Linked DNA regions of Homo sapiens: regions 2 and 3 are each linked to region 1. Evidence: fine-mapped expression QTL. A gene starts in region 1. Each other region holds a variant in brackets. All regions are shown on one strand. Distances are between the middles of the regions.

Evidence for each region.
Region 2: its variant is fine-mapped to the expression of PDE6B in whole blood (INTERVAL, PIP above 0.99).
Region 3: its variant is fine-mapped to the expression of PDE6B in hippocampus (GTEx, PIP above 0.99).

What each region holds. Positions count from the first base shown.
Region 1 is chr4:621,905-630,163 of GRCh38, reverse strand. PDE6B (phosphodiesterase 6B) reads right to left here and starts at 4,591. Exons shown (of 22, transcript NM_000283.4): 1 at 4,070-4,591. The coding sequence starts at 4,537. RefSeq lists enhancers at 2,937-3,925, 3,926-4,915, 5,905-6,895.
Region 2 is chr4:661,972-669,971 of GRCh38, reverse strand. It overlaps PDE6B (phosphodiesterase 6B), which reads right to left. Exons shown (of 22, transcript NM_000283.4): 13 at 7,731-7,838; 14 at 7,354-7,463; 15 at 6,785-6,872; 16 at 6,102-6,202; 17 at 5,751-5,858; 18 at 5,028-5,091; 19 at 4,643-4,717; 20 at 3,358-3,441; 21 at 1,966-2,116. Among named protein-coding and RNA genes, the nearest start is that of ATP5ME, 8.3 kb to the left of the region's middle. RefSeq lists a silencer at 5,943-6,412 and an enhancer at 6,007-6,599. The variant C/T (reference allele first, on the strand shown) is at 3,044.
Region 3 is chr4:433,432-441,699 of GRCh38, reverse strand. ZNF721 (zinc finger protein 721) reads left to right here. Exons shown (of 3, transcript NM_133474.4): 3 at 1-1,712. The coding sequence ends at 5. It also overlaps the pseudogene ABCA11P and the pseudogene LOC100533734. Among named protein-coding and RNA genes, the nearest start is that of ZNF721, 62 kb to the left of the region's middle. The variant G/A (reference allele first, on the strand shown) is at 3,686.

The DNA.
Region 1 (8,259 bases):
CGTGTGTCTGTCGGTGAAGATTAACACGTGGCCCCTGCTGGCCCCCCGTCTCTCCTCTCTGGTGCCCTCTGGGTTCTGTGTCCCCTGTAGTGATGCCTGGCCGGGGGGTCCTTGCCTGCTGGTCTCTTCCTCTCCACTGTCCAGTCTGGGCTTCCCTACTTCCCCAGAGGCTCCTGGTCAGACATGCCAGGAGCCTTGTCTGGGAGCAGGTGGCAGCTGTGGACTCTCAGGCTCCTGGGAACCCCCTGCATTTGCTCTGCCTCTAGCAGGCCTGGGGGCTGTGTGTGCTCACATAGCCGAGCAGCTGGGCCTCGCTCTGGGGCCTTCACACCCACTGTGGCTTCTCCAAAGCACCTCCAACTGCCCAAGCCCCACACCTCCTCTGCCGTCTGTGCTCAGCATGGCTGACGGCCGGTCCTGCCACCCTCCTCCCTCTATCTCCGGATTCCCACCCAGCCCGTGTTCTCAACGCCCCTGCTCTGTCCAGCCTTGTAGAGACCACCATAGGACTGAGTCGAAGGGTCTTGACTGCTGGCGACGTGCAGGACCCCGTGATGAGGTGTTTTGGGGCAGGGGGCAGGGGACCCACCAGGGTCCCGGGACGGGCCTTTGGGATGGGTTCCCATGACGGTCCCAGGGAGAGGAGCTGGAAGGTGGTGGAGGCTGAGGCTGCATGCACAGCACTGCGGGGTCCGTGGCTGTTCGGCTGGGGCTGGGCTCAGAAACCGCTGCACAGTCAGAGCTGGGGTGTGAGTCCTGCCCCGCCACTTGGTGGCCGTGGCCGAGCCCCACCAGCCCACCAGGATCGTCCATCCCAGCTGCCCTCGCTGTGAACTCTTGCAGGTCTGAGGAGCCACAAAGGGGTGATGGGGGGGCTGGTGGCTTCCCCCTCATCAGGTGTGGGCGGCGTCCCTGCCCGGGGTGCACAGCGGGGGATGGGGAAGGCCATGCCACCTCACAGGCCCACTCGCTCCTCCCTCTCTGCACCCGACCTGTGCTTCCTTCCTGCCAAGAGGCTTGTCTAGGAGCCATGAACACTGGGTAGCTGGGCAGGGCCTCTCACCCGGCTGGCCCATTGGCTTCTGACATGTTGGGAGGGATGGAGGGGGGCCTGGTGTCCGCCTTCTGGGACCTGTGGTTCCTGAGCCCAAGGTTTTAGGGTTCACAATCCATGCCCAGGCCTGGGCCAGGCTCCAGGAAGGTTGTGCTCAGTCCTGAGTCCCGGCAGGGCCCCCCTTGTGCAGGCCCTGGGATTCGCTGTGTCTCCCCAAGGGGCTGCCGTGACACACAACATGTGTAGTCGTGGGGTTCTGGGAGCAGACAGGGACTTGGAGCCATCAGCTGAAGCCCTGCACCTCCCAGAAGCTGGTCCCACGTGGCCTGGCACCGCCTGGGCTCCCTGTAGGCCCGAGAGTGTGAGCCCTGGGCAGCCCCTCCCTCCATGGTGGCTCCTGGGACAGACCCCTGGGGACAGGAGGGCCCACAGGCCAGGCTACTGCAGCCTTCACCCTGGGCTGGCACCCTCAGCTCCAGGAGGATGGACGCTTGCAGCTCAGGGAGGAGCGGGTTACCCGGGGCCTGCCTGCCCTGCAGACTCAGGGCCCGCTGTGCTCAGGAGCAGGCTGGTTTAGCCGCTGCAGCACCCTTGAGAGGCAGACATTAGTTCCCCAATGTAAACAGGGAGACAAGGCTCAGGAGGGCGAGACTCCGGGTGGCCCGGGCAGGAGGGTGAGACTCCGGGTGGCCCGGGTGTTGCGTGCTGGCCACCCACGCCCCGTCTGAGGGACTCTTCCACCACAGCCACGAGCTGCTCTCCTGAACTGGCCGGTGCGGCTCACGCCCTCCAAAGAGGGTGCAGTGGGCCAGACTGAGGTGTGCTCTGCCTCAGTCCCCCCTTCTGTAAACTGAGACATGAACCCAGAAGCCACTTGGCAGTGCTTAGGGTGCTGAGATGCACTTCATGAGGCTTTGCACTTCATGAGGATTTGCACTTCATGAAGATTTGCTTTTTTTGGTGGCAATTCAGACTCAAGTTTCTGTTCCCTTAGTCTGAGATAACTAAGACTCCACAGAATGGAGGGACAGACACCATGCCCAGCCCCTTGGAATGGCACCAGCTACACTGGGCAGGGGAGAGGCCTCGGAGGTCAGTCCTGGGGCAGGTGCGGCCATGGCACTGGGGGTGGGGGTGGCAGGACCTAGAACAGCCCTGGGGAACAGGCCAGGCCGAGGGACGGACCTAGGACAGCCCAGCAGTTTGAGGGGGACCCGCAGAGCAGGGAAGAGACACCATCAGCCGGGTGGGGACAAAGGGGTGAAGGGGTGGTGGCAGCGGGGGACAAACTCCTGGGGGCAAGAAAGACACAGCCCAGATTTGGGACAGGGTGGGGATGAGAAGTTGTCTTGGGGATTGTGTGCAGGAGGAAGGAAGGGAGACGGGGAGGATGGCAGAAAAGGAGGGAGGAGGGTGGCAGGAGAGTGAGGGGAGGAGGGAGGAGGGAACGGGGGGAGGGAGGAGCAGCTGGTGTCCACCCCAGGCCCCACTGCTGTGAAGTTTCCTGGCTTCCTGGTAACTCATGCTCCTGATGCACGATTGATTTGTGGGTGCCCCACTTCTTAGGAGGGAGGTGGAGATGAAGGTAACCCGGGGATTACTGAATCTAGGTCACTGCCTTGCTGCTTGCTTACTGCCATTGGGATAAGAGGATTGCCACTTCCGGCCTGGTGCGGTGGCTCACGCCTGTTATCCCAGCACTTTGGAAATCTGAGGCAGGTTGATCACCTGAGGTCAGGAGTTCGAGAACAGCCTGACCAACATGACGAAACTCTGTCTCTATTAAAAATACAAAAATTAGCCGGGTGTGGTGGCGGGCACCTCTAGTCCTAGCTACTCAGGAGGCCAAGGCAGGAGAATCGCTTGAACGTGGGAGACGGAGGTTGCAGTGAGCTGACATCATGCCACTGTACTCCAGCCTGGTGACAGAGCAAGACTCTGTCTCAAAAAAAAAAAAAACCCACAAACGAAAACAAACCAGGATTGCCACTCCCCAGCTGCCTGGGAAGGAGGGACCACACCTGCCCCTGGGCTGGCAGCCTGGTGGGTAATTCCCAAGGCTCATCCAGCAAGAGCGGAGGCTGCCTGGGCCTCTTGCAGCCTCCTTAGCTGTGGGGACAGAAAAGGGGAGAGGAAGCTGGGACGGGTGCAGGACAGGGAGAAGGGGCTTCCCCCCTCCCCTTCTTCCTCAGAGCCCCCTTGCCGGGCAGCTCCTCAGGGCCTTTCCAGGTCTCTGCTGGCCGCTGCCCTCACCCAGTCTGGCAGGCACCTCACACCCCTCTTGTTCTCCAGTCCCGCCAGGACCGCCTCTGTCCTCGGGAAGCGTCTGCCCTAGCCCAGGCTTTGCATGAACAGGCCCTGCCCTTCCCTCCTTCAGTGACTCCAGTGAGCCTGTCTCGATTCTGTCTCTTGTCCCTCCCCAGTCCCACCCTGGACCCCTGTGCTCAGTGGCTACCAGGTTTGTTCTCCCCTGGCGGCTGGCGTGGGCTCCCATGGGATAAAGCTGCTTCTGCCACAGTGGAAGTTTGGGGTTCCCCTGGCTCTCCCTCCCTGTGGGCGTCTGCACCACCTTCGACTGTGACCTCTTCTTCCCAAATCCCAAGGCAGGGCCTCCCTCCCAGCCCAGAGAGCCCTGAAGCCCCCATCTGGTCAGTCTTCCTGGAAGCCAGGGGTCCTCACAGGGACTACATGGTCCCCACCATGGGATGTGGATGCAGAATCAGGGGCACCCCGGTTTGAGCCTGAGTCTGCTTCAGCCGAGGCTCCTAGACTCAGGTCTAACCAACTCAGTGGCCATGCGATGTCAGCTTGAGCCAGAAGCCGAGTCGGAGAGGCAGGCGGCCAGGGCACAGTGCCGGGAGGGGGCTCTAGGTACTTGCTCCTCAGCACAGAACTAGCCTGTGCCCTGACAAGAGGCCTCCCTGGAGGCCTGAGGATCCGAGCTGACCCTTAGACACCTGGGACAGGTGCAAGAGATGCACACAGCCGCCTCCCTGAGGCTCCGCACAGACCCACCTCGGCCACGTCCTCGACGTTCACCATCTTTTTGGTCTGAGCCACGTGGCCCACGACCCCGATGTCCAGTGGGAAGACGATCTCGGAGTCGGGGGGCACCAGGCAGTCCTCCAGGACGCTGTCCGGCTGCACGCTGAAAAGCCTGGTGGCCAGCTCGGCCACGCCGTTGCGCTGGCGGTACATGAAGAGGCTGCAGCGGTCGGCCTGCAGGAGGGTGCAGAGGCGCCGCAGGACCTTGAAGACCACGCGCTCCATGTTGATGCTCTCCTGCATATCCTGCACCAGCTCCAGCAGCGCCGTGCTCTCCTCCACCTGGCAGAGGTCCCGGAGGCTGTCGCAGTCCGGCGGGCACCCGTCCTCGCAGGCCGCGGCCACATTCTCAGGGCTCAGTTTCTTCCCAAAGTACTGGCGGGCAAAATCGGGGTTCTGGTCCAGAAAGCTCCGGGCCTGCTCCTCACTGAGGCTCATGGTGGCTGCCTGTCCCTGGAGACGCTGCTGCTCCAGGCACGCATGGACTCCCAGGAAACCCTGTCATCAGCAAAGTCTTTCTTAGTGAGATTAGGAACCCCGGGGGCGGGTCAGCTGACTCACTCCTACAAATGGGGGCCTGCGCTCCCTCTCCTCAGACCCTGGGACTTCCCACCTTCCAGGAAAACCAGACCCTGTGGAATGAAGGCTGGGAGTAACTGTTGGGGGATCTCCTGCCTGTTGCAGGCGTCACGGGTGGCTGGGCACAGGCATTTGGCTTCTAGCGGACCAGGCCCTGAGAACTAATCCCCTGAGGAGGTTATCCCACACACAGCATGACGCTTTCTGCTGGTGGAGCTGCCTGAGGGTTTGGGTTGGTCCCACAGGTGGCCCCAGGCCCTCCTGGGAGCCCAGACCTGGGCTCGGGTGTGCTGGGGAGGTGGTGGGGCACTGGCCCTGCCTCCAGGAGATGCAGTTCACCCCTGTGCAGGGAGAGGGGGCTGGGTAATCACACCAGGACCCAAATGCCCAGAGGCCAGCAAGGGGACCCTGGATGTGGAGGTGGGACCACATCCACCTTCCCCCACACTCTGAGGGATGCAGAGTTGCTAGTCAGCCTTTACCTGCTGTCAGGCCCCGGCTGGGACAAGCTTCGGGGTGACGCCGCTCTGAGGCCACATGGCTTTCAGTGGAAAAAGGACCTGAATGTTGGGGGGCTGCCTGGCAACAAAGCCCGACCTCTCCTCTCCGCTGTCACCTCAGCAAGCCTTGCCTGCTCCCATAGGCCTCTCGGCTCCTGGGCCAGCTCCCTGCAGGCCAGCAGGGGTGATGTGGCCAGAAGCACCTTGGCTGGGTCTGGCATGGGCGCCGGCCTGGCGGGCGGGTGGCAGTGTTCCTGATTTCCCTGAATATAAAAACGCTGATTGTCGCTTTCCAGGCACCTTTGTGCTGCCAGATCCTGGGCTTAAGGTTTCTTCCCATCTTTTCCAGTTTATCTGTCCATGTTGTCACCATACTTTTAACCAGGATGCAAGGTTTTCATGTGGTTCTTTTACTGCACTCAGCTGGTAGACGTGTGTGCACGCGTGCATGAGTGTGCACATACGTGTGTGCACGGAGTGTGAGTGTGCGCACGTGTAGGTGTGTGTGTTCGTGTGAGCACGTGTGCATGACAGCCAGGTGCCCTCAGGAGCGCAGAGTTCTCTCAGCACGAGGCCAGGCCCCGGGGAAGCTTCTGCGAGGGCCCTGGGCTGCACCGCTGCAGCTGCCTGTCTCGGAGGCTGCTCTGAGGCAGCATCTGCGCCGTCCACAGTGGGCCCAGCTGGGTGTGCGACGTGTGCCCTTGTGCCATGATGTTCCTGCCTCCACTTAGTCACAAAGTCACTTCCTTTCAAGGATCTGCTGAGAGGCTTCCCCTTTTTCCTAAAAATAGTGAATTCTCACTGGGGACGGGGGAGTGGGGATGTGGGTGGGGGGAGGGGTTGTGGGGCCGCTGCAGTGCTTGGGTTTGGGGCCGGGGGGAGGGTCGCCTGCTTTGCATTCAGTCCCAGAACAGCCTCCAGAGCCTGCCGGTTGCATTTCCCAACTCCCAGGGATGAGCTCACATTGCGCCTGGATGTGAGGATGGCGGCCGGAAACCAGCCTTCAGGTCCTCGGTTGCCCCACCCTGAGGTCTATGCACACGCAGCCCCTCCCCACCTCCTTTTTCCTCTCCGGGCTCTTTCCCGTCCCCCAGTTCCTCACAACCCCCTTCTGGACACCCCCACTTTGCCCCTTGCTCCCCTCCGTCAGCGAGGGGCCTGCCAACCTCCCTCCCACAGGGGCCTCCGTGCCCGCAGAACTGAGACACTCACCTGCGTGTGAAATGAGCTAAGCGCATCTTGAGTGGGACCGCAGAGCTGGAGAGGCCTTGCTGGGGGCATGAGGGCCCTGGGGTGGGGCTGGGGGTGGCAGCTGACCTCAGGCTCTGCCTTGCCACCTGCCCAAGGGAGCGTGGAGTGGCTGGGCTCAGTGTGGAGAGCAGGTGGGACAGGGAAGGGGTGCTGGGCTGAGGATTTGTGGTGCTAGCGGGAGTGAGGGTTGGCTGGGAGGGCTCAGTGTGGAGAGTGGGTGGGACGGGGAAGGGGTGCTGGACTGAAGATTTGGGGCGCTAGCGGGAGTGAGGGTTGGCTGGGAGGAGCCCACAGTCTGCGGCCATAGTCCACTCACCCTAACACGACTGTGACAGCAGCTTCCACCCGCAGCACCGCGTTCCTCACCTGTGGCTTTGTCCTGCCCCAGGAGCCCGTCGTGATTGTAGGTGAGTAGGTTCAGGGCGGCAAGGAGTCCACAGCCTCTGGGGAACCCTGAGCCATGACCATGGGAGTTGTGTGTGAACACCGCAGCTCCCTTACCTGCAGGGGCCCAGAGGTAACTGCTCCATGGCACACTATTGGTTCTATCTTTTCCCCATCTCACTTCCCTACATACCTACTGATGATGCTGGGGGACCCTGATTGGGTTGGACTTGACACAGTCAAAAAGACACACCTGTGAGGCACACCTGTGAGACACACCTGTGAGACACAGCTGTGAGACGCACCTGTAAGGCTTACCTGTGAGATGCACCTGTGACATGCACCTGTGAGATGCACCTGTGAGACACACCTGTGAGACACACCTGTGAGACGCACCTGTGAGACGCACCTGTGAGGCTCACCTGTGACATGCACCTGAGACACACCTGTGAGACGCACCTGTGAGACACACGTGAGACGCACCTGTGAGACACACATGTGAGACGCACCTGTGACATGCACCTGTGAGACACACCTGTGACATGCACCTGAGACGCACCTGTGAGAAACACGTGAGATGCACCTGTGAGACACACATGTGAGACGCACCTGTGACATGCACCTGTGAGACACACCTGTGACATGCACCTGTGAGATGCACCTGTGAGACACACGTGAGACGCACCTGAGACGCACCTGTGAGACACACGTGAGACACACGTGAGACGCACCTATGAGGCACACCTGTGAGACATAGCTGTGAGACGCACCTGTGAGATGCACCTGTGAGATGCACATGTGAGATGCACCTGTGAGGTGCACCTGTGAGACGCACCTGTGAGAAGCACCTGTGAGATGCAAGGACTCACTGGGCGGCTTCTCCACAGATGCACCTGGCGAGTGTCTGAGGAGATATGGGAGTGCTCTGTCCCTTGGCTCCTACTAACTTTGCCTCATCATAATGTAGAATTTAAAATTAGCAAGCACTTCCTGGCAGTCACTTAGAACAAGGTGTTTGTCATCAAATAGCTTTTACATGAAGAGAATCCTAGTTTCTTGTACTAAACTGTGGAAAAGATGCAATTGTACAAGGAACAATTGGCCCTGATGTTGAAATGGACCGGTCATGAGGAATGGCAAGAGGTGAAAGTGGAGAGAAGATTCGAGCTCAGAATCAGAAATCTCATGAAATTTGCAAGCAGAGAAACAGTCAGCTCCGTGGGGAGCTGGTGCTCTTCCAGACCATTTCCCTGGAATGAGGACAAGGAAGGGTGAGGAGGTGGGGCTCCTCCTGAGCTGGTGTGGGAATTCCACCCAGGACAGGACAGGGGTCTTTGTGGGTGGGGGCGGCCGCGGCCCTCGGCCTGGGCTCTGTCCTCTGCCCATGCTCAGCTGCTGTCTGACCACAGGCGAGGCTCTCGGCTTCTTCAGGTCCCATTTTCTGGT
Region 2 (8,000 bases), 40 kb before region 1:
GTGACCTCTACCAACCCCTGCAGGAGGAAGGACAGCACCTGGGTCTGTGACCAGCCCAAGCCGATTAGCTGGGCTGAGCCTTTCTTAGTGCTTTAGCCTCTGTTGACACTGTGCCCTGATTATGCTCATCCTGGCCTTCCATAGTCCTGAAGTCGCCTTGTTTATGTAGCATAGGATAGCGGGAATAGCATGGGGTAGGGGGATAGCATGGGGTAGGGGAATAGCATGGGGTAGCGGGAATAGCATGGGGTAGCGGGAATAGCATGGGGTAGCGGGAATAGCATGGGGTAGCGGGAATAGCATGGCGTAGCGGGAATAGCATGGGGTAGGGGAATAGCATGGGGTAGCGGGAATAGCATGGGGTAGCGGGAATAGCATGGGGTAGCGGGAATAGCATGGGGTAGTGGGAATAGCATGGCGTAGCGGGAATAGCATGGGGTAGCGGGAATAGCATGGGGTAGTGGGAATAGCATGGGGTAGCGGGAATAGCATGGCGTAGTGGGAATAGCATGGGGTAGTGGGAATAGCATGGGGTAGGGGAATAGCATGGGGTAGCGGGAATAGCATGGGGTAGGGGGATAGCATGGGGTAGGGGAATAGCATGGGGTAGTGGGAATAGCATGGGGTAGGGGAATAGCATGGGGTAGCGGGAATAGCATGGGGTAGTGGGACTAGCATGGGGTAGTGGCAGCAGCATGGAGTAGTGGGAATAGCATGGGGTAGTGGGAGCAGCATAGGGTAGGGGAATAGCATGGGGTAGCGGGAATAGCATGGCATAGCGGGAATAGCATGGGGTAGGGGAATAGCGTGGGGTAGTGGGAGCAGCATGGGGTAGGGGAATAGCGTGGGGTAGTGGGAGCAGCATGGGGTAGGGGAATAGCGTGGGGTAGTGGGAGCAGCATGGGGTAGGGGAATAGCATGGGGTAGCGGGAATAGCATGGCATAGCGGGAATAGCATGGGGTAGGGGAATAGCGTGGGGTAGTGGGAGCAGCATGGGGTAGGGGAATAGCGTGGGGTAGTGGGAGCAGCATGGGGTAGGGGAATAGCGTGGGGTAGTGGGAGCAGCATGGGGTAGGGGAATAGCATGGGGTAGCGGGAATAGCATGGCATAGCGGGAATAGCATGGGGTAGGGGAATAGCGTGGGGTAGTGGGAGCAGCATGGGGTAGGGGAATAGCGTGGGGTAGTGGGAGCAGCATGGGGTAGGGGAATAGCATGGGGTAGGGGAATAGCATGGCATAGCAGGAATAGCATGGGGTAGGGGAATAGCATGGCATAGCGGGAATAGCATGGGGTAGGGGAATAGCGTGGGGTAGTGGGAGCAGCATGGGGTAGCGGGAATAGCATGGGGTAGGGGAATAGCATGGGGTAGCGGGAATAGCATGGGGTAGTGGTACTAGCATGGGGTAGGGGAATAGCATGGGGTAGCGGGAATAGCATGGGGTAGTGGTACTAGCATGGGGTAGGGGAATAGCATGGGGTAGTGGGAGCAGCATGGGGTAGTGGGAGCAGCATGGGGTAGTGGGAGCAGCATGGGGTAGCGGGAATAGCATGGGATACTGGGAGCAGCGGGAATAGCAAGCCAAACCTCAGAGCTAAGGTAGCCAAGTGCGGGCCAATGGCAAGACCACGATGCCTTTGGGATTTGAACTTGGGGGTGTGCTGACTTGTTGCAACTAAGTCCTTTATAAAGGACATAAGATATGGTTACTTCTTTCTTGAAAAATGGGGTTCACTGGCTAGGAACAGAGGAAATTTTTCAGTCCGGGTTTGCTACCGAGGTGGAGTCAGCTGCCACTCTCCCCCGCCGTGGCCTCTCTCCCTGCACTGTGGCCCTGTCCACCTCGAGGCTTCTTGAAAGTGGCTCTGCTTTTCTCCATTTTAACTCTGCTCTGTGCCCTGTCTTTTCATTTTGCCTTGGGAGAGTCACCGAGTCCCTGCCCCACAGGCCACACAGAGCCAGACCTTTCTTGGCTGCCACCCTCTCCTCCTCCTCCTTCTCCTCCAGAGCCTTCACTTTGGCCTCATACTCATCAGCCAGCGCCTTCCACTCTTTCCTATTGTTCTGCAGTCGGTCGAACATGGGCAGGATCTCTTCGTGGAAACGAGAGAACTCCTGAGGGGAGTCGAGAAGTCACCACCAGTCCTGTCCTGCCTGCTCTCTCCAGAGTAAGATAGCCCTTCCCCAGCTCATCCCCCTCGTAGGGGATGAACTGCCTGGCAGGAGGAGGGAGCGCCACGGAGGGGGCACCTTCCCAGCAGAGCCCTGTGAAGGGAGAAACCTCGGGGGCTGTGTTGGTGACATTGAAGCCGGGAGCTTTAGGGTATGCATGCTTAGGGTGCAGTGTTGCAGGGAGAGGAACCCAAGAATGAGCAGAACAGCTCAGGGGGTGGGGGCAGGGTGCCAGGCAGAGGGGTGGTGGGCACAGGCGGACAGCAGGCAGCCCCTGCAGTGCCTTCTCCCGTCCCTCCCACACACACACGGCACACATCATGCAAGCACAGCACACGCGTGCACTCGCGCACATCACACATGGAGTGTGGCGGGGTGGGGAAGGCAGTGGGGGGCACCTGCAGTGGGGCCGTGACCTGTGGCCACTTCAGGCCCAAATATCCACCCTTGTCCCACCTTCTCCCCAGCACTGACGACCCGGGGTGGGTAGGATGGGGCGGGGAGTGGGCACAGCCCACTCCGGGACAACTTCATGTGGAACCCGTGGCATCCTCCTTGGGGCGTGGATTCCATCACCAGGGAGTGTGGCCGGAGGCAGCTGGCTCTTATGGGCATCACACAGGGCCCCACGGTCAGACCCCTGCCCCATCGAGTCTCCCCCTCCATGTCCGCCTTGCGTCCTCAGAGACTCAGCTGGCATCGGACTGTGGCAGATTGGCAGGGATGTGGCTCCTTCTGCTGTTCCAAACGCCCCTGTGGGCGGGTGCACCAGCAGACAGGCCGACCCAGCCCCGCCTCGAGGGTTCACAAACATGGAACAAATGAACCCACAGAGCTGCAGCCAAGGCCCCCAAAACAGTGTGCTGGCCA[C/T]GGCGGAGGGCACTGAGGGAGAACTTCTGGGGTAGGCCTGGAGGCTAGCAGAGGACATTCTGGGCTGGGAAAGGGCTCAGAGCTTCCAGGGGCACAGCAGGGTGAGGATGGGCTGGGGCACCTGTGGGGGTCCGGAAACTGATGTTCCTCCCCATTTGCCCCACTCAAGAGCGGCACGAAGCTGGCACTGGCATCCCTACTCCAGTGAGGACACCGCCGGGCCCGTGTGAGTCCACGCGACTCCAGCCCGCGCCCCCTTGCCTGCTCCCAGCCACCCTGCCCCAGTCAGCTCGGAACACCCGTGAACCACTCGCCTTGTACACGAATGTGCACACGAAGTCGATGAAGCCCACTTGCAGCTTGGGGAGCTCGGCCGCCTTGTTCCGGTCCATCATAGGCTGGTGGGAGGAACAGAGGGCGGGAGAACAGTGACCAGGGAGGCAGCTCCTGGGGCCCCGCCCAGCCCCCCGACCCCCTCACTCAGATGTGCTCATGGAGACACAGCCTGGGACGAGCCTGCCTGACAGAAACTGGCTCTCGGGAGGGGAAGCTGACACCCTCTCCCTTGGCCAGCGGCTCCACAGCTCCTAGGAACTGTGGGCAGCTTCTTCCCACAGCTGCTGTTGGCTCCAGCCCGTGGTCCCCTGAGGGCAGCCCCCTCTTGGCTCTGGGGACCCTTACTGCAGCTGGGGAGAGGCGGGGAGGGGGATGGGCTGTACACAGTGCTGAGCCGGGCTGGGCTGCACTGCCCAGACACTCGGCTGACCAGGACCTCGCTGTGCACTCGCCTGGGGCAGACACAGACGTGCTCTGGAGCTGTTTCTAGTGTCAGACCCCGAGTGCCCTGGGCTGTCCGTCCCCTCACAGCGTCCTGGTGGAGGGTGAACCATGCAGGACTCTAGAGGCCGGGCGCGGGGGATGGACCTGCTGCCTGTCCTTCCCCTGTGGGGCTTTGCTGACCAACCAATGCCCCCTTTCCTGCCGAGGCTGCACCTGGCCTAAGCCCTCTCCACTGCAGGCTCCAGAGAGCCCCTCGCCGCCCACCAGAGCGGGTGTGTGAGAAACCACAGCTCCCACCTGGTCCACGTGGGGCTGGGGCAGCCCTGCCTCTCCTGTTCCTGGCGCCTATCCTGACTCTCCCATTTGCTGGCACCTCTCCTGCTGCCAGGAGGTATCCAGACCCCGCTGCTGACCTGAGGACCCTGGCATTGTCCATCATACCACTGTGTGGGCCCGGGACGCCCCCCATGCGTTCTCTGCCCCAGCACCCTCCCCAGGGCTTTCTTGGTGCATGGCTCGCGGCCCTGCTGGGGTTCACCTGCAGAGCTGCCTGGACCCAGAGGCTCCTGGTGATGAGCGGGTGGCCCTGGTTCCTCCAGTGCCAACGACGTCACCTCTGCATAAGCATCACCCAAGCCACAGCTGTACCCAGGTCCGAGCCACCCACACGCATGTCACATGATCCCACAAAGTGAGATAAGGACCCCACGACCTCAGAACCCCCTGCCTGAGACCAAGCCAGGACCTGAGGCTCCTGAGGACCAAGAGGGGTCTCTAACACCCGTTTCAGGAGTGGAAGGTTCCAGAAGCAGCACTCACAATGGGCTGCTGATCCAAGACTGTCCTTTCCAAGTCACCTTGCTCCCAGAACTCAGCAGCCACGAGAAGTGCGACCTGGAGGCACAGGAAGGCAGCTGTCTGTGGAGCTCTGAGCCCACGCGGAAGGGCCCGGGCCCGCCCCGTGAGGCTCCGAGCCTCGGTCTTCTCCGCCCCAGACCCCCGGGGTCCCCACCACACAGGGCTCCGGTTGAGCCATGTAGACACACTGCAGTACCCCCATCCTTGCCGCCCTGGCCTGGCCCCGAGGTGGCCCTCAGAGCTCCTTGCAAACAATGGTCCGTTGCCATCCGAGGCTCCCGCCCGCCCGGCAGTCCCATGTGCTGAGAGGCACTGACTCTGGGTCTGGAGGGCCCTCTGTTCTAACCTTGCTCTGGACTTCCCAGGGCTTGGTGATGGCAGACAGGTCGCAGGCTGTCATCATCATGGCCCTGCAGACACAAACCGGGCACGAGTGCTGATGGGCGTCTCCTGAGGGCAGGTGGTTTATATGTGTTTTCTTTTTTGAGATGGAGTCTTGCTCTGTTGCCCAGGCTGGAGTGCAATGGCGCAATCTCAGCTCACTGCAACCTCCGCCTCCCGATTCTTGTGCCTCAGCCTCCCGAGTAGCTGGGATTACAGGCGCCCGCCACCACGCCCGGCTAATTTTTGTATTTTCGGTAGAGACGGGGTTTCACCATGTTGGCCAGGCTGATCTCGAACTCCTGACCTCAGGTGATCCACTCCCCTCGGCCTCCCAAGTGCTGGGTTTATGTGTATTTTCTCACTGGGTCCCTGGGACCAGCCTGGGGAGGGGCTGGTTGTGAATCACCATTTTACAGGTGAAAAAGTGGAAGGTCAAAATGAAGTAAGTTACTGCCAAGGGCTACAGACCAATGCAGGGCCTGTGTGCTCCCCAGCTCTGCACCATCTCCCTGAGAGCTGGGGGGAAATAAGGACGGCGCATTTGTTTCACAGCCCTCGACAAGCTGCCGCGACGGGCTCTTCCTGCTCCAGAGCGTCTGGGGAGGGCTGCAGGGTTAACCAGCTGGTGAGTGGGCCCGGTCCCTGCGAGGGAAGGACCCCTCGTGCCCCCTCCGCCCGCGCTCACATGACGATCTCCTTCCGGGTCGTCTCCAGGGACAGGTACTCCACCCAGCTCTTCTTGTCCTGGTAGTTCTTGGACTCATCCACGATCTTCTGAAACATCGCTCTCTTCCTGAACCCAGGGAACAAGGGAGGTGCAGGTGGGAGCAAGTGTGGAGACCCCGCCCCAAGCGCCCGTCTGCAGGGAGGCGCGGAGCCCGAGCGAGGCCCCATCCGGGGTGCGCGGGGCCGGCGGGCAGGGACGGAATCCGGGGCTGCGTCCCCCGGGCTGTGCCGCCGCTGCGCCCCCGTGTCTGCCGGGGGTCCCAGGCTACCCGCCCGCCCCGCGAGGCGCCCCCTCCCGGAAGGCGCGCACTTGAAGTACAGGGCCAGGTCCGTGGCGATGATGGCGATGTCCATCAGGTGGATCACGTGCTCGTGCTGCCGCCGGTTCAGGTTCTGGTAGATGTTCAGGGTCTGCGGAGGTTATGCCCAGCGCGTCAGGCGCCCTGCGGCCACCTCTCAGGGTGCCCGGGGACCCCGCCCCTTCCGCCTCGGCTGCCTGTGCCTCTCACGCCCCCGCCCTCGGGCCCTCGGTGGGCGGGACCCCTAATCCGCCTGCTGCTCAGGGCCCTCCTCAGGGTGCCCAGCTCTCCACCAGCGGCTCCATCGTCGGCTTGGGACGCAGATGGCCTCAGAGGTCACCACCGGGGAGCGCAGGGAGGGGTCCACTGAGTGTCCAGGTCCTTGGGGGCCGCTCAGGGCTCGGCTGCCCTTCATTCCCCCGCTGGTGGGTCCCGGGCCGCTTCCCCTTCGGCTTCCACCCCACCCCATGAGGGGCCCTTTCCAGTTGTCTTCCCCACAAGCGTTTTCCCAGGGCCTCCGATGCACCTGCCCTCAGCCTCGGCCCTCCGCCTTCTCTGCCGCCCTCCCCCAGTGCTCACACACCCAGTGCTCACCCGCTGCATCAGAACCCTGCTCCGCAGGATACGGCCCTGCCGTCCTGCGGACGCTGCGTCCCCAGCGCCCACAGCAGAAACCGAGGGTGAGTATACCAACCTCCTCCGAGAGCAGGAACTTCCCAAACTCCAGGTGGTGCCGCTCCAAAATCGAGGAGCCGTGGAGCTTAGCCAAGGGGTTCTGGGACCTGTTACACAGGTGGTGGAGGTGAGGCCCGTGGGACCTGCCCTTGGCCCACCCTGCGCTCTGCAGCCCCCCCAGATGGGCCCCACTTTCTTTTTTTTGAGACAGGGTCTGCCTCTGTCACCCACTCTGGAGTGCAGTGGTGCAATCATGGCTCAATACAGCCTTGACCTCCTGGGCTCAAGTGATCCTCCCACCTCAGCCTCCTAAGTAGCTGGGACCACAGGTGTGCGCCACCATACACAGCTTTTTTTTTTTTTTTTTTTTTTAAGTTTTTGTAGAGGAGAGCTCTTGCCATGTTGCCCAGGCTGGTCTCGAACTCCTGGGCTCAAGCAATCCCCTCGCCTTGGCCTCCCACAGTGCTGGAGTACGGGGCCTGGCCGTGGACTCCACTTTCTACATAGCCTGCTATGCGAAGCCTAATTCACGCCAAGGGCGTGGAGTTGATTTAGGGCTAATTCACATGCCCGCCCTGAGGTGCCTACTTCATCTGGTACAGGTTGTTGGTGCCGCGGTGGTCGATGTCATGGCACAGGCCGGCTGTCACCATGGCGAAGGCCTCCAGGTCCGTGTAGTAGCTCTTCAGTTTGCCGGTCTGTAGAGACAGGGCCACCTTGCTCACCGGTCCTGGCTCCAGCAGGGTGGGGAGTGGTGAGGGGTTGGGATGACCTAGGCGTCGGGTTGGAGGTTGGACCTCCGACCACCGCAGGGCTGGGGTGCGCGGTGCACGGTGTCAGAGGGCGTTGCCCTCCTCCATCCTTCTGCCCTGGGAGGACCCCCATCTCATCCCTCGGGGTGCTTGAGTGCTGCCCTTGGTACCAGGAGGGCCTGCACAACCCTGGTGATTCTGGCAGCCACGTACCATGAGCAGCGTGAACATCGTCTGGGCCACGTTGAAGCCGTGGCGCCAGTTGTGGTAGGTGATTCTCCGGTACCCTTTGCTGATGGAGAACAGGAACCGCACCAGGACCTGGGGGAGCCGAGAGGACACAGGGCTCCGGCGGCAAGCGTGTAAGTCCCGCCAGAGCGGCACCTGTGGCTGACTTCACAGTGGAAGCCCTGCTCCGTGCCATCATCCCCACACCGTCTCCTGGACTTCCCGATCTTCCCCATCCCTGCGTTTCCCACTGGC
Region 3 (8,268 bases), 190 kb after region 1:
TGTAAAGAATGTGGCAAAGCCTTTAAGTCATACTACAGCATTCTTAAACATAAGAGAACTCATACCAGGGGAATGTCTTACGAAGGTGACGAATGTCGCGGTCTTTAAATGCTCCTCAATCCTTTCTAATCATAAGATAATTCATAATGAAGAGAAACTCTAAAATGTGAAAAATGTGAGAAGGCTTTTAATCACACCTCAATCTGTTGTAGACATAAGAGTAATTATATTGATGAGAAGCCAAATTAAAATTAAAAATGTGGCAAAGACTTCCAATTCTAGTCAGTTCTTAATGTAATTCCTACTGAAGAAAACACCTGGAAATACAAAAAATGTGGCAAAACTTGTAACCAATGCTTAGCATTTTTGCACATGATAGTATTTATATGTGAGACTACTTGTACAAACATAAAAATATACAAAAGCTATTGTCTACTTGAAATTTATAGTTAATAAAAGCATTATAAATGTAATTTCTGTTGAAAGACCTTTTAGAAAATATAGGCCATTAAAGTGAAGAATAGTCTTAAGACAGAGAATACAAAGATAAAGAGGGCTCTAGTACCTGTACTTGTATCCCAGAACTTACTATATGCATTTTGTACTAGAGGAAAACTCTGAAGCAGTTGCTTAAACTTTGTTCAACATCAGAGAATTTATATTGGAGAGAAATCCTACAAATGTAATAAATGTGGAAAAACCTCTGTTCAGAAACTGCAGGTTAAGAAACCAGAGGCCAGGCGCGGTGGCTCACGCCTGTAATCCCAACACTTTGGGAGGCCAAGGAGGGTGGATCACCTGAGGTCGGGAGTTCAAGGACAGCCTGACCAATATGGAGAAACCTCGTCTGTACTAAAAATACAAAAATTAGCAGGACATGGTGGTGCATGGCTGTAATCCCAGCTACTCAGGAGGCTGAGACAGGAGAATGGCTTGAACCCAGGAGGTGGAGGTTGCGGTGAGCTGAGATCGTGCCATTGCACTCCAGCCTGGGTAACAAGAGTGAAACTCTGTCTCAAAACAAGATAAAAAGAAAAGAAACACCAGAGAATTTTTACTAGAATATAATTTGTAGGTGCAGTAAATGTGAAGAAATATTTAGGCTAAAATTAAGACTATGTAAACATCAGAGGATTTACAGTAGAAAGAACTAAGGAACTAACACTTCAGACTTTAAAATAAATCAGAGTATTAAGTATAACAAAAGTTGAACCTGTTAGAAAATTTCCTTGTATATAAGTTGAAAAGTAGGTTTTTGAAGAGATATATTCGAAATATATTTTTTCACTTGAAAAAAGTAAAAATTTTTTTCAAAAGCAAATAATTCAACTCTAAAATTATACTATTTCAACATTCTCATTTATGTGAAAGCATGTGATAAATTGTTGCTGCGTCAGAGATATGAGAAACTCCTTTGCATTAGGTGGGCATTATTCATAGACTTCTACATGAAAGAGAAGAGAAATAAAAGATGCACCAGGAAAATCTGAGCAGAGAGGCTTTTAGTGGTTGACTTACTGAGTGATGCCTGAAGTAGGTGTTCAGAGTAATACTTTGCGTTATACTGAGAGAGAATCTGAATTTTAGTAGTAAATTGTTTTGCCAACTGTATATTTATGTAATAAGTGCAATAAAATGCAGTAAATTTTAAAATTCTCTTAAGATAATGTGTGAACTTAATTTTTGAAATAAAAATTGTTATTGTGTTAAAATTTTTGTGCCGTGAATGAAGTGTTTTATTATGCCACCAACTTTCACCTATCCAACCTTACTCAAGGGTGTACGTTAAAGATGGTAACAATGTACTATCTGGTAATATAATTGAATGACATCTCTAGTCTTTTTTAGTGGCTTTCAACAGCAAATAAATTGAAGAATATTGTTTGCATGTTACATTTTTATTCTTATTGAAATTTTTCAAAAGGTTTTGTGAGTACATAGTATGTGTATATATTTATGGTATATATGGGTTATTTTGATACAGGCATACAGTATGTAATAATCACACCACAGTAAATGAGTTATTATCACCTCAAGCATTTATCCTTTGTATTACACACAATCCAGTTACACACTTTAATTATTTTTAACTACAGGTCATTTTATGTTTGTAATAAACATTCATACATTCCTGAGTCTTGAATACTTTTAAAAAATGTTTCATATATATCTTTGAACATGTGGCATGTCCTCCTGCAAACACATACAGACATTTAATTTACTTGGAGTTAAATATATAAATTTTGTGCTCTAAAGATAAACGTTGGGCACAAGGAAATTATGGAGCAAGTAATTGTGTTTGCATGAGAGTTTATACCTATTTTCCAAAGAAAATAGCAATATTGGAACAAAGAAGGTTCTATTAATACTGTGGATAGGTAATTTACTAGAAATCTAAAACATTTTGAAATCAAATCTATATTTTCTTCTTTTCATTTAATTACTGTACAATCTAATGAATCATCGTTGAGAATCTCCCCATGCCAATCAATTCTGGTTTTATGTGGTCCTCATGCTCTAGCTATAAATTTCTCATTTTTTTTGTTTCCACTTCATAAAGTATGTGAGCTTGTCAGAAATTATAAGAATCATTTTTATAAAATTTAGTGCACCAAAAATACTTTTTAGATGTAATTTCACAATGTGTGTATTTATGTTTTATTTAATTAGAACATTTCATTTTATTGGACAACCTTATATAAGCTGTTTTCTTTAGTTATTGTTCTTTTCACTTTTTATAACTAAATAAGTTTGTTCAGGCAAGTACTGGGAAGACATAAGTATTGGGGATGTTTTGATAAATAATTGTAGTGAACAAACACAAAGTGCTGGGTGTGTAATAGATGCTCCATAACTAGCCATAAATATTCCTGGAGTTAGTTCGTAGCTCCAAGTAAAAGATTAAAAATATCTATGTTGAAGAAATGTCATTAATTGTGCATGTGGAGAGGACGTGTTCCCAGGCTGCAAAACTGACTCAGTCTGAATTTAAAGAGGATTTCTGTTTTTATTTTCTAATTATCTTTAGTTTTGTGATGTCTTCTTTTCCTTTGTGTTTTGGCTACAGTTTCCTCGCTGATCTCTTCATGCCGTGTAATTTCACATGGACTTTCAAGGTTCAGATGAGAAGTTTAGAATTTTTAATGTGGTATATTATTGTTTTTAACTGGGTTGTTTGAGATTATTTATAATTTATCAATACAACATTCAGATGACTTGAGAGTAATTCACTGTTCACAGGTAAGAGGATTAAGTCAGCATTGCTTCTCTGTATTGGTAAAGGAAAAATTGTATGAGATTCTAACAAAAAGTGTGTTAAACATAAGTTAGAATAGGTAAAACATTAATATAAGTGGGTTGCATATTGTAAGCACCATATGAAGAAACTCATCAGAATTTTGATATCTCTTAAGATAAAATATATCTTAGAAAAAAAATTTTTTTTTTTTTTTAGACAGAATCTTTCTCTGTTGCCAAGGCTAACCTGCAGTGGCACGATCTCAGCTCACTGCAACCTCTGCCTCCTGGGTTCACGTCATTCCCTTGCCTAAGCCTCCCGAGTAGCTGGGACTACAGGCGCCCACTCCCACGCCTGGCTAATTTTTTGTATTTTTAGTAGAGATGGGGTTTCACCATGTTAGCCAGGATGGTCTCGATCTCCTGACCTCATGATCCGCCTGCCTCT[G/A]CCTCCCAAAGTGCTGGGATTACAGGCGGGAGCCACCACACCCGGCCCTCTTGAAATTTTTAAGAGACTTAATGGTAGGTGAAGGATTTTACATATCATTTTCTATGACATAGCAAAACTATTTTTTTAAGCTGAATCTTTTGAGTGTAAATGTTAAGTGTTGGAAAAATAGAATGATCTGTGTAGATTCAAGATTCAAAATCTGCAGTGATCTTTTCTGTTGAGATTCATGTTACAATCTTGAGGAAATTTGTTATGATTTTTTTGTTTTAGTGGATGCAGTTCATGAGGTACGGTTTTCATTTTTAGTCACTTTATCCAAGTCCTTCGTCACCTTCTCTGGAAAATCAGATTATGGCAGCTATTGAATTCAAACGTTCATTAATTAATGTAATTCAGCATATACATAATAATATATACCAAATACTAACCATAATCCTGTATATCTGTTAATTTTCACAGAAACTCAATGCATAGACATTATTATTATCCTTATTTTACAGAGGAAGGAACAGAGCCACAGAGAAAAATGACTTGCTCACAACAGAAGAGCCAGTAGTAAAACACAGGCAAGTTTGACTCTAGAGATAAGTCTTAACTACTACGGTAAACAACCTCTTCAAACAGAAAATACATGATTATCTTCAACACCCATTTTTTTTTTTGAGACGGAGTCTCGCTCTGTCGTCCAGGCCGGAGTGCAGTGGCGTGATCTCAGCTCACTGCAAGCTCCACCTCGCGAGTTCACGCCATTCTCCTGTCTCAGCCTCCCGAGTAGCTGGGACTACAGGTGCCCGCCACTGCGCCCGGCTAATTTTTTTGTGTTTTTAGTAGAGATGCGGTTTCACTGTGTTAGCCAGGATGGTCTCGATCTCCTGACCTCATGATCCGCCCACCTCGACCTCCCAAAGTGCTGGGATTATAGGCATGAGCCACCGTGCCCGGCCTCAACACCCATCCTTAATAAAAAATTAACAAACATTGGGCTGGGCGCGGTGGCTCACGCCTGTAATCTCAGCACTTTGGGAGGCAAAGGTCTCGAACTCGAGACCGTCCTGGCTAACATGGTGAAACGCCGTCTCTACTAAAAATACAAAAAATTAGCCAGGCGTGGTGACAGCACCTGTAGTCCCAGCTACTTGGGAGGCTGAGGCAGGAGAATGGCGTGAACCCAGGAGGTGGAGCTTGCAGTGAGCCAAGATCACGCTGCTGCACTCCAGCCTGGGCAACACAGCGAGACTCCGTCTCAAAAAAAAAAATTATAATTTCATTTATGTGAGATATTTTTAGTAGTCAGCTCATAAAAACAAAGTACAATGGTGTTTGTCAAGAGGTGGGGGAGAGTGAAAATGTTACCAGGAAGTGCAAAGTCCTTAGTTCTTGTTTTCTTGAGAGAAACAATTCAGCCCAGACACAAAGAACACACCAAAAGAGGAGTAGGTTGGCCCAGCTGGAAACAGTCTTGAGAGTTACATGTTGCAGTTTTTATTATCATAGACTTAAAAAAAATTTCCCACCTCTGTCTTAAGTGTCTGCCTTTGTTTAGTATCCTGCTTCCTGGTAAATCTCTTCTTTTATCCTCATCGAGTTTCTGCCCAGGTCTGTGAGATGCTTCCTTACTGTCAGCTGATATACATGTGTGAGTTCCAGTGATCAATGAATCTTAATGGCAGCACTGCTTATTACCGCCATCTTAGGAAAATAATATAGCAGTCAAATGTGTACTTACTATGCCTACGTATCTCTTAGGAATTTTCCTTTAGCCCTTTTTCCCTTTTTATCAGCATGTAGCTAGCTACATTCTGACAGTTTAATCACAGTATGAGCAATTACTGGGTGTCCTAAGTGGTGTTTCAGGGTGTTCTTCATAGGTATTTCTGCTCCTCTCTGCTCAAATTTAGCATACATGTTTTGGGTTGTCTTTGGAGCATGAGGCTTTTTCCTCTGGGGCTCTTTTTTTCTGTTCATGTCTAACTGCCTACTCGAACATTCCCTCAATAGATTGTGACTCTAAAAATCTTTGAGACAGTGCACTGTGGGTCTTCTGTAACTACTTCCTGGTGACATAAGATAACTCATCAGCATCTCATTATCTTGCTCTTTGTCAGAAAAACATTCCCTCCATGTTTTCCCAGGTTTGACTTGCAGTATCCAGAGGAAATGTGGAGAAACACAGTTGTACAGAAGGGAAGAAAATAGGTTGATACTCCTGTTGCAGGACCATTTGAAGTCTGAGAGTTTCCAGGTGAGAGGAAACAAACCTGGTTACTTGATTTAGTGAGTAAAGCTCACAAAAGAGAAAAAGGAAGACAAAAGCTAGGGATCCCCCAAAAAGGGATGTGATGAGAATTTGAACCAGTTGGCACCCCAGGAGAACTAGCCCTTAGTGGCATGTTTCTGATGGTGACAGGCTTGGTTTATAAAATCTCTAACATGGTCCTGGACTTTCCCTAATCTGTTAACCCAGAAACAGCATTTTTCTCCTAGCATAAGGCAAATGCTTTTGTGAGCTGCAGCTAGTGTGGCAAGACCTCTACAATTTTGAACTACAGCCACGAGATAATCAACTTGTTGCTGTCACTCTGTAAGAGTCTGAGCAGTGGTTTCTGTTTTTTGAGTCAGTTCTAGAGACAGGTTGTGGTAAGTTGAGAAGGCAATAATTATGCCAGCTATTCCTGTAGTGGCACTTGTGATGCCAAGCTCATTGAGGAAAAAAATAAAAAAGATAAACTGCACAGTTGATCTGGTTTGAGGTAGTAAAGGGTAACAGCAAAGAATCATCACCCAGGACAATGCAAATTTTAGGGGTGAAGGAAGCCAGAGTGCATGTCCTCGTCAAGTTTCCAGAGAGGCAGAGATAAGCCTGCATTTCACACAGGAAGTAAAGTTCTGTAGTCAATAAAAATGGATGCAGAAGGTGAGGTCAGTTCCAAACATTGACCAGGGTCCTTGTTGGCTATCCGATATGTGAGATTCTGCCACTAAAGTTGCTGCTGCCAGGGGAGCCAGACATGGGTCCTATGTGTTTTTTTGTTTCATTTTATCATGGGGATGTCTCTAGTAGTATCAAGGAGAAGGGTTTTCTGAAACAAAGACTTGAAACCTTTTGCATAATTTATACTGGCTTGGTTGACACCATGGGTTGGGTTGACTGCCAGAGGTGTGACCGACGCAGAATTCAGTGGCATCATTTTGGATGAATGCTCCAGGTGCTAAAACATTTGGGGGAGAATAGAAAATCTCATTTGATGTTGAGAATATTTAGTGAAACAAAATTTTGAGAAATATCAATAATGGTGCTCGTTGTGTTGCATTGTGCTGGGTCTAAAGCATCCACGATGGTTCTGGAGTTTACAGTAGCACAGATGCATAGGAGTACCTGGCCAATGAGGGTAGCAGGGGAGAACAAGGGGCTTGAAACAATGGGGGTGGGTTTAAGAAAATCTTAAAAGGCTGCTTTAGGTTTTGTCAAAAAGATTATACTAGCAGAGGGAAGGTTTTGTGTAGAGAGGTCCCGATGGTAGGTGAAGCTAAGTTGGGCTTGAGTAGATGTCCATTCTTGTATTGTGGCCAAGTAGGCCATTCCCACCCAGGATGAAGAGGAATTCATGACTAGCTAACAGGTTGAGGCATAGGAAGAATTGGTAGAGTTTAGTAGTTGTGGAGTTGCCTGCAAAGTGCTTAAAAAAAAGGTTGTGGGCAGTTAGGGCATATGAGGGTGACTTTAGTCAGAAGTATGAGTAATGACCATAGAACATTAGGCTGCATGGCTCCAAGGGAAGTAGAATAGGGCCAAATTGAGATGCTTGATTAAGAAGAGAGACTGTTAACCCAATGAATATTAGAGAGATCACTACTCAGATTATGGCTTTGATGTTTAAATGTAGGAGGGACATAGCAAACTCTTCCCTGGAGAGGGTGTTGGTTTACAGTAACAAAGGCATATTAGTAAATCTGCAGAGTATTATGACTTCTAATATAAACATGAAAATATTACATCGCTGATGGACTAAAGCAGTCAAAAGTAAAATAACTAGGTTAAAAAATTAATATTAGATAAAGCAAGCTCTTAATGGAACACCTGGTGGTGTGCAAGTTAGGGTTAAGGTAAGAATCAACAGTACCACTGCAAATAAGATTGCCAATATTGGGATTACCCTACTTTGAGATAAAATGAGGAAGAGCATTACTTAGCTTCTCATTTAGAGAAAAATTTGTAAGTCCTCCTGTGGGTCACAGGAGTAGGTAAGTGTTGGTTCAATCTTTCTTTGGTTCCTTAACGTGTTTCCAGTTGTATTCAAAAATAATGTGTCCAGCTAGAGATGCCAGGAAACTTGATAGCTATTGGGGTGAGAAGTATGATAGTAAAATTGTTCTTCTGTAATGTGGTTAGTTGAGATCCAGGAGATCCACCTCTCCAGATTTTAATGAGGACTTGTTACCCTGCCTGGTTATAAGGGTTGTTGGAGTGGGGGTCAAACTCAGAATTGTTTGTCCAAACTCCTGGATGGCCTCTTGAAATTGAGTCAGCGATTTTATGTACCGGGTTAATTTGGTAACCTCTGGGTATAATACTAGGTTTG